Homo sapiens: one gene and its partner. The protein of the gene in region 1 interacts with the protein of each later gene in a biochemical or structural test. Each region holds a gene or a part of one and is shown in the gene's direction. Other genes may lie near its edges.

Region 1 (3,657 bases):
TCTATAACATATAAAATTACTTGGTTTTTTTCTTTTTAAAATTTTTTCTTTTTATTCTTTTTTTTTTTTTTGAGACAAGGTCTTGCTTTATTGCTGAGGCTAGAGTACAGTGACTCTTCACAGGCACAGTCATAGCACACTACAGCCTCAAACTCCTGCCCTCAAGCAGTCCTCCTGCCTCAGCCTCCTGATTAGCTGGGACTACAGAAAAGTACTTGTTTTTCAACCAATGACATTTACTCTGTATGTATGTCTGTATGTGTATACAGATAATCAGCTATGAGAATATAGCCTTGCCTCTTGTTTTCTACTACTACTTTCCACTCCTACTTTTCCTTGCACAATGTTATTTTCAATGCTGCCTTTGAACTTAAGAGTGAGATTCATTGATGATAATTGAAGTATTTTAGGCTTGAAAAAAAATTCATCTCCTGCTTGGTCAGTTCTGTTATAAGCAAGGAGATTAAGGGCATGAATAGGATGCTTACTTATCTTTGCCTTCAGTATCTCTCCCCCTCTTCCCCACACACAAAAATGCACTCCAGACTGCTCTTCACATCTTCCTTCAGGGCGTATCCTGGATCTAAAGACTGGAACAGTGAAAAAGGAAGGTCAGCAGTCTTCCATGAGAATGTGTATGGGCTCAAGGAGATCGTTTATTTGCCGAATGAGGTGAGTGTCAAGCTGAGGATTGTGATTTGGTATAGGAAGGATCAAGAGCTGAGAGTTTTATTTCTGTCAGAGTTAAGTTGGATTAGCTCCAGTGGATTAAATTTAACTCTCCATACCCAGATGGATTGTAACACAGAATAAAGTATTTGGAAAGGGAACTAACGTTTCTGAACTTGCCAGACACTATGATAGGTGCTTTATATCTGTCATCTTATTTTATCCTCACAATTGCCTTGTAGTGTAAGATTGATGGTTACCATTTTGCAGATGGAAAAACAGATATAAAGAAATGAACTTGGCCAGGTGCAGTGGCTCAAGGCTGTAATCCCAGCACTTTAGGAGGCTGAGGCGAGTGGATCACCTGAGGTCAGGAGTTTGAGACCAGCCTGGCCAACATGGTGAAACCCCATCTCTACTAAAAAAAAACAACAACAAAATTAGACGGGCGTGGTGGCGTGCGCCCATAATCCCAGCCACTTGGAGGCTGAGGCAGGACAATTGCTTGAACCCAGGAGGTGGAGGTTGCAGTGAGCCGAGATTGTGCCATTACACTCCAGCCTAGGCAAAAAGAGTGAAACTCTGTCTCAAAAAAAAAAAAAAGAAAAAGAAAAAGAAATGAATTTCCCACTGTTACATACTGTTTGATACAGGATTTTGTTTTAATTCATAGTAGTCTGACTACAAAACCTCTACTTTTTCCCTGTTACAACACAAGGCAATATCCATTTACTCAGACCATTTCTTCTTTTTTTTTTTGGTTAGAAATTTGAGACTTCCTATGTCTTTCAGTAGGTGTTTAGTGTTTATAAATTATATACTGTACGTTTTAGGATTCTGTAGAAAATATGGTGGTCCTTTCTATACAGGTACAAAAGGCATCTCAGGGTCACAAAGTTCAGGCTATATAATGGAAATTGACTACATTGTACTGAGAGGATAGTTGCTAGAAATTATGGGTAGGATATTAAAGGTTTGCTTGGAGAGGCACAAAATTGAACATTATGTGGTTTAGTGATTTATTTTTATTTTTATTTATTTATTTTTTTGAGACAGAGTCTTGCTCTGTTGCCCAGGCTGGAGTGCAGTGGCATGATCTTGGGTCATTACAACCTCTACCTCCTGGGTTCAAGCGATTCTCATGCCTCAGTTTCCTGAGTAGCTGGATTGCCACCACAGCTGGCTAATTTTTGTATTTTTAGTAAAACAGTGTTTCACCATGTTGGCCAGGCTGGCCTCAAACTCTTGACCTCAAGTGATTCGCCTGCGTCAGCCTCCCAAAGTGCTGAGATTACAGGCCTGAACCACTGCACCCAGCGTGTAATTTAGAGTAGCTTCTAGACCCAGACTGCTGGATTTTGTTTTAATCCATATTCTATGGATTTGAATTCTAGCTTTGATGCTATCTTCTGAAACCTTGGATGATTACATGACTACATTGTGCTTTGATTTCATCATCTCACATTGGCGATAATGTTAATACTGACTTTATAAAGTTGTTATGAAGATTAGATGAATTAATATATGTAAAGATATTTAGAACAGAGCATGACACATATTAACCCTATGTAAGTTTTATTTTTGTTTTAAAGGATAGGGAGAGGGAAAGTAGCATTGGCAGGAGTATCCCAATATGTGGACATGGCTAATGCAAAGACATAGGCAAGAGCAAGATAATAATGAACTGTAGCAATTACATTAAGTTGTGGTTAATGTAGAGCAGGAGTAAGCAAACCACAGCCCTTTATTTGTAAATAAAGTTTTATTGGAACATAGCCATGCCCATATTTTTACATATTATCTATGGCTATTTTCATGCTATAATGCTAGAGTTGACTAGTTGCAACAGACTTTCTGGCCCGCAAAGCTGAAAATATGTACTATCTGGTCCTTTACAGAAAAAGCTTGCCAACTCTTGATGTTGAGAATGTTTGCATATGAAGAACATATGGAACATTTTGACTTCAAATTCTAAAAGTTTTAGAAATACTAAACTTGACCTATCTTTATCCTTCATTATTAGTAGCATTACCAATTTTCTATGTCTGGTTGTATCCAGAGCATGTTATTCTGCTATTACTGTGGAAAGTTCTTTGATAGGGCAGTCTGATTGCTTTTAATCTCTTTATTCCTTGAAACAGGTGTGGCAGTAGCTCTGTGGACCCAGTTTCTGTGAATAGGCTGAGCTTTGTGAGGAACAGATGCAGGTGAGATCCTAAGTGGTGAAAACCAAAGGGATGGCCAAATACCTGCAGAGATCATCACATTTTTACCTGTCTTACTGTAGTCGTTCCTTCAGCAGCTCTCACTTGCATCCCTTACCTCCCACTTAACATCCCTTACCTCCCACTTACTTTTTTTCTGGCAATATTTTCCTAAACTTCTAAAACTTCTCTTGAAAATCCTGTTTAAGGAAGTCGCTATGCTATTTTACCTACTTTCCTCCTACTGCATACCTTTTGGTTACTTTACTTTGGCAAGGGTAAAAATGTGGCGGTCATTTTTGGGTGGGAAAGATGATTATCCTGTTTTCTAAACTCCTAAGAGCATAAACTTAAAAGTACTAAGGCAGCATTGCCCTTTGAGTTTTACGGGTAGATTTTTTTTTTTTTTTTCAAACTCCTGTAACTCTTCTAGGAATGGACTTGGCTCTGTAAAGGATGGGGAACCTCACTTCGTGGTGGTCCACTGCACAGGCTACATCAAGGCCTGGCCCCCAGCAGGTAAGAAAGTGAAATAGTAAATATTTCCCCTTGGTACAGTTGGTTCCTCACAGAGTCCATGAAAGCTAATATTTATTATATACCTGGTATATGAAATGTACTTTTGTGTAAGATGAAAGAAAATAGGAAAAGAAAATGTACAATCCTTCCCTTCCATTATTGAGCTTTTATTCCAGTTGAGGAGATAGATAACTCAGGCTGGAAAATGATTCAGTATTGGCTGTGTCACAGAATGTGGTTTTTATGTGAACAAATTTATACTGAA
Region 2 (3,588 bases), on another chromosome or scaffold:
CTCAAGTGGTTCAGGTGGTTCTAGATGGTCTAAAAAACATTCTGATAATGGCCGGTGATGAAGCAAGCACAATAGCTGAAATAATAGAGGAATGTGGAGGTAAGAGTGGATTGATGGAAGAAGAGTATTTGAGCACTGGAACTCTGAAACATAAGTTCTTTAAAGTCAACTTACTAGACAGAAAATTACTAGGATACGTTGTTTTTAAATGATCACAGTATGTTGCTTTTCTTTATTCACTATATTTGCATTCCAAGAGGATTTTCCAGAAGACAGTAGTCCATACTTTGCAAAATCAGGTTGTGAAAGTCACTGTATAGCCTTCTAGAGATTGACAACATAGCTTTTTTTTTTTTTTTTGGAGACAGAATCTTGCTCTGTCGCCCAGGCTGGAGTGCAGTGGCACAATCTCAGCTCATTGCAACCTCTGCCTCCCGAGTTCAAGCAATTCTCACACCTCAGCCTCCCAGGTAGCCGGGATTACAGGCGCACACCACCACACCCAGTGGATTTTTGTGTTTTTAATAGAGACGAGGTTTCACCATGTTGGCCAGGCTGGTCTCGAACTCCTGACCTCAAGTGATCCACCTGCCTCAGCGTCCCAAAGTGCTGGGATTACAGGCATGAGCCACTGCGCCTGGCCTGACATTGCATTTTAGGAAACACTAATACTTCTCTTGAAGTCACAGTGCATGACAGCAAATTTAAGAGCCCTTACAACACTACATAAATTTTAAAGCTTTATTTAATCCAGCATTTCTTAAACTTCTTAACAATGAAACACTTTTTTTGTGTGTTATTACCATGTAATTCTGTGGACCCCACTTTAGGAAATATTATTTCATATAGTTGGAAAAGGTTACTGACTTCTGAGTCACCTAGATATTTTGTTTCAATCTTGTAATGATTCTTAGGATTTCCACAACTACATCCTGAAGTTATTACTGTGGCAGTTACTTTGAAATTTTAATGAGAAATAATTGTGATTTGACATACTGTATTATTCTTTAATGACATGTGAAACATATGTTAAAATTCTGTTTTTAAATGTACATGTTCAATATGTACTAACATGTTTAAACCTTAAATTAGTTTATCATAATGTCATGTTTTAGATTTTACATTTCATTGACTACTTTATATGAATATTCTATTGTTTATTTATTTATTTATTTTAAGAGAAAACAAATGCAGTAGTACCGTAGAATATTCAGACTGGGAGGATTTCTTTCTTTCTATTTATTTATTTATTTATTTATTTATTTATTTATTTATTTATTTATTTTTTATTTATTTATTTTTTTTTTGAGACAGAGTTTCGCTCTTGTTGCCCAGGCTGGAGTGTAATGGCTCACCGCAACCTCCGTCTCCCGGGTTTAAGCAATTCTCCTACCTCAGCCTCCCTAGTAGCTGGGATTATAGGCATGCACCACCACGCCCGGCTAAATTTTTGTATTTTTAGTAGAGGCAGGGTTTCTCCGTGTTGGTCAGGCTGGTCTTAAACTCCCAACCTCGGGTGATCTGCCCGCCTCGGCTTCCCAAAGTGCTGGGATTACAGGCGTGAGCCACTGCACCCAGCCGGGAGGGTTTCTTGAGAAGAAATTATCCCACAGATTTTAAGGAGTCTTGTCCAAGGTGACAGAAGTAGGTTGTGATAGAAGCAAAGTTAAAATCCAGATCTTCTTACTATTAAGATAATTAAAAATTGTAGTCAGGTTCATAACACAGTAAGTTTGAGCAACTTAGAGAATTACTACTCTTCAGCTTTTTATCAATATAGTTACTTTTGTCTATAGGAGTAATAGGATACATATTAATATTTTATAATTGTATAAAGCACTTTGGCAACGATTTCCCCCATTCTTTTGGTTTATTAGTATATAAGAAAAAATTGCAACTATTTTAAAATAACCTTCAAAAAGACATTTCAAGGAAGAATATTAAGGTGTGAAATTGATAAACATGTATATGATGTGTGGAGTAAATATATTGGAAATATAAATGAAGGCATTCTATGATATCTGTTCTGGAAATATTTTCTCCCAGGTTCATTGTGGCTATAGGACATAAGACCTCTATTCATTTTTTAAAGAAAGTTTTTCAAAATTTAAATCTTTATATCTTTTATACCAATTATAAGGTTCTAAAAACTCATTTTGTGGTTATATAAAGGTAATAACATTTGGAAAACAAAGAGAAAGATACAAATTACTTTATGAGGCAGTAAGATTAATAAGATTGGCCGGGTGCAGTGGCTCACTCCTGTAATCCCAGCACTTTGGGAGGCCAAGGCGGGCGAATCACGAGGTCAGGAGTTCGAGACCAGCCTGGCCAACATGGTGAAACCCCGTCTCTACTAAAAACACAAAAAATTAGCTGGGCATAGTGGTGGGCACCTGTAATCCCAGCTACTTGGGAGGCTGAGGCAGGAGACACTTGAACCCAGGAGGTGGAGGTTGCAGTGAGCCGAGACGTGCCACTGCACTCCAGCCCTGGCTACAGAGTGAGACTCCGTCTCAAAAAAAAAAAAAAAAAAGAAAGAAAGAAAAAATGCCCAGGCGCAGTGGCTCACGCCTGTAATCCCAGCACTTTGGGAGGCCGAGGTGGGCAGATCACGAGGTCAGGAGATCAAGATCATCCTGGCTAACATAGTGAAACCCCGTCTCTGCTAAAAATAGAAAAACTTAGCCGGGTGTGGTGGCGGGCGCCTGTAGTCCCAGCTACTTGGGAGGCTTAGGCGGGAGAATGGCATGAACCCAGGAGGCGGAGCTTGCAGTGAGCCGAGATCACACCTCTGCACTCTGCACTCCAGCCTGGGTGACAGAGCGAGACTCCGTCTCAAAAAAAAAATAGATTAGTAAATTTATATTAAAGCACTGTGGGGGAGTTGGTTCTAGTACTGTCACAAACTTGCCATATAACTTGAAATAAGTCTCTTTACATATTTATGCCACAGCTTCCCTCTGTCAAATGGATTGTTTGGGTGTTTTTTTAGACTGTCTGCCTCAGGGATCCGGGTACCTCAAGGGCTTCTAAGAAGGAAAAAATTAGTGGGATTCTGGTCCTCCAACTAGAAGCAGCCCCGTGTTTTGTCTGTTTTTTAGACAAACCACTATCTTAGATGGGGGAGCAGTGTGTTCTGAGTTCCTTAGGATTTCTCCATGATTAAAATGAGTGTGGTTTTGATTAGTATCTCCTTATCAATTAACCAGTTATTTTGATTATTTTATTTTTACCAGGTTTGGAGAAAATTGAAGTTTTACAGCAACATGAAAATGAAGACATATATAAATTAGCATTTGAAATCATAGATCAGTATTTCTCTGGTGATGATGTAAGTAGATATTAAAATAGCGTGTATCTTCATGTAAATGAAAACCTATACATGATGTAAATTTACTAAGAGTTTTCCTTTTATTATTAGGATGACATAAGTTTGTACTGTATTTCTATTAGACATTCCATCAGTCACTTTCTCTTAAATACTTTGAAACTTCATTATAAGGTAAAGTTGTAAAAACAGTTCTTGTTTCATTTCTAATCTATTAACTAGGAAGAAATAGTAATTATATAAGTGATATATGTTCA

The links. The genes of interacting proteins can lie anywhere in the genome.
Region 2: the proteins of ARNT (region 1) and KPNA3 form a complex in vitro, tested with the Homo sapiens proteins (one study listed by BioGRID).

The regions. Positions count from the first base shown.
Region 1 is NC_000001.11:150,831,553-150,835,209, reverse strand, and holds part of ARNT (aryl hydrocarbon receptor nuclear translocator), read left to right. Parts: intron 1-569; coding exon 570-672; intron 673-2,810; coding exon 2,811-2,876; intron 2,877-3,306; coding exon 3,307-3,392; intron 3,393-3,657. UniProt on the Homo sapiens protein: Required for activity of the AHR. Upon ligand binding, AHR translocates into the nucleus, where it heterodimerizes with ARNT and induces transcription by binding to xenobiotic response elements (XRE).
Region 2 is NC_000013.11:49,702,132-49,705,719, reverse strand, and holds part of KPNA3 (importin subunit alpha-4), read left to right. Parts: coding exon 1-99; intron 100-3,239; coding exon 3,240-3,334; intron 3,335-3,588. UniProt on the Homo sapiens protein: Functions in nuclear protein import as an adapter protein for nuclear receptor KPNB1. Binds specifically and directly to substrates containing either a simple or bipartite NLS motif.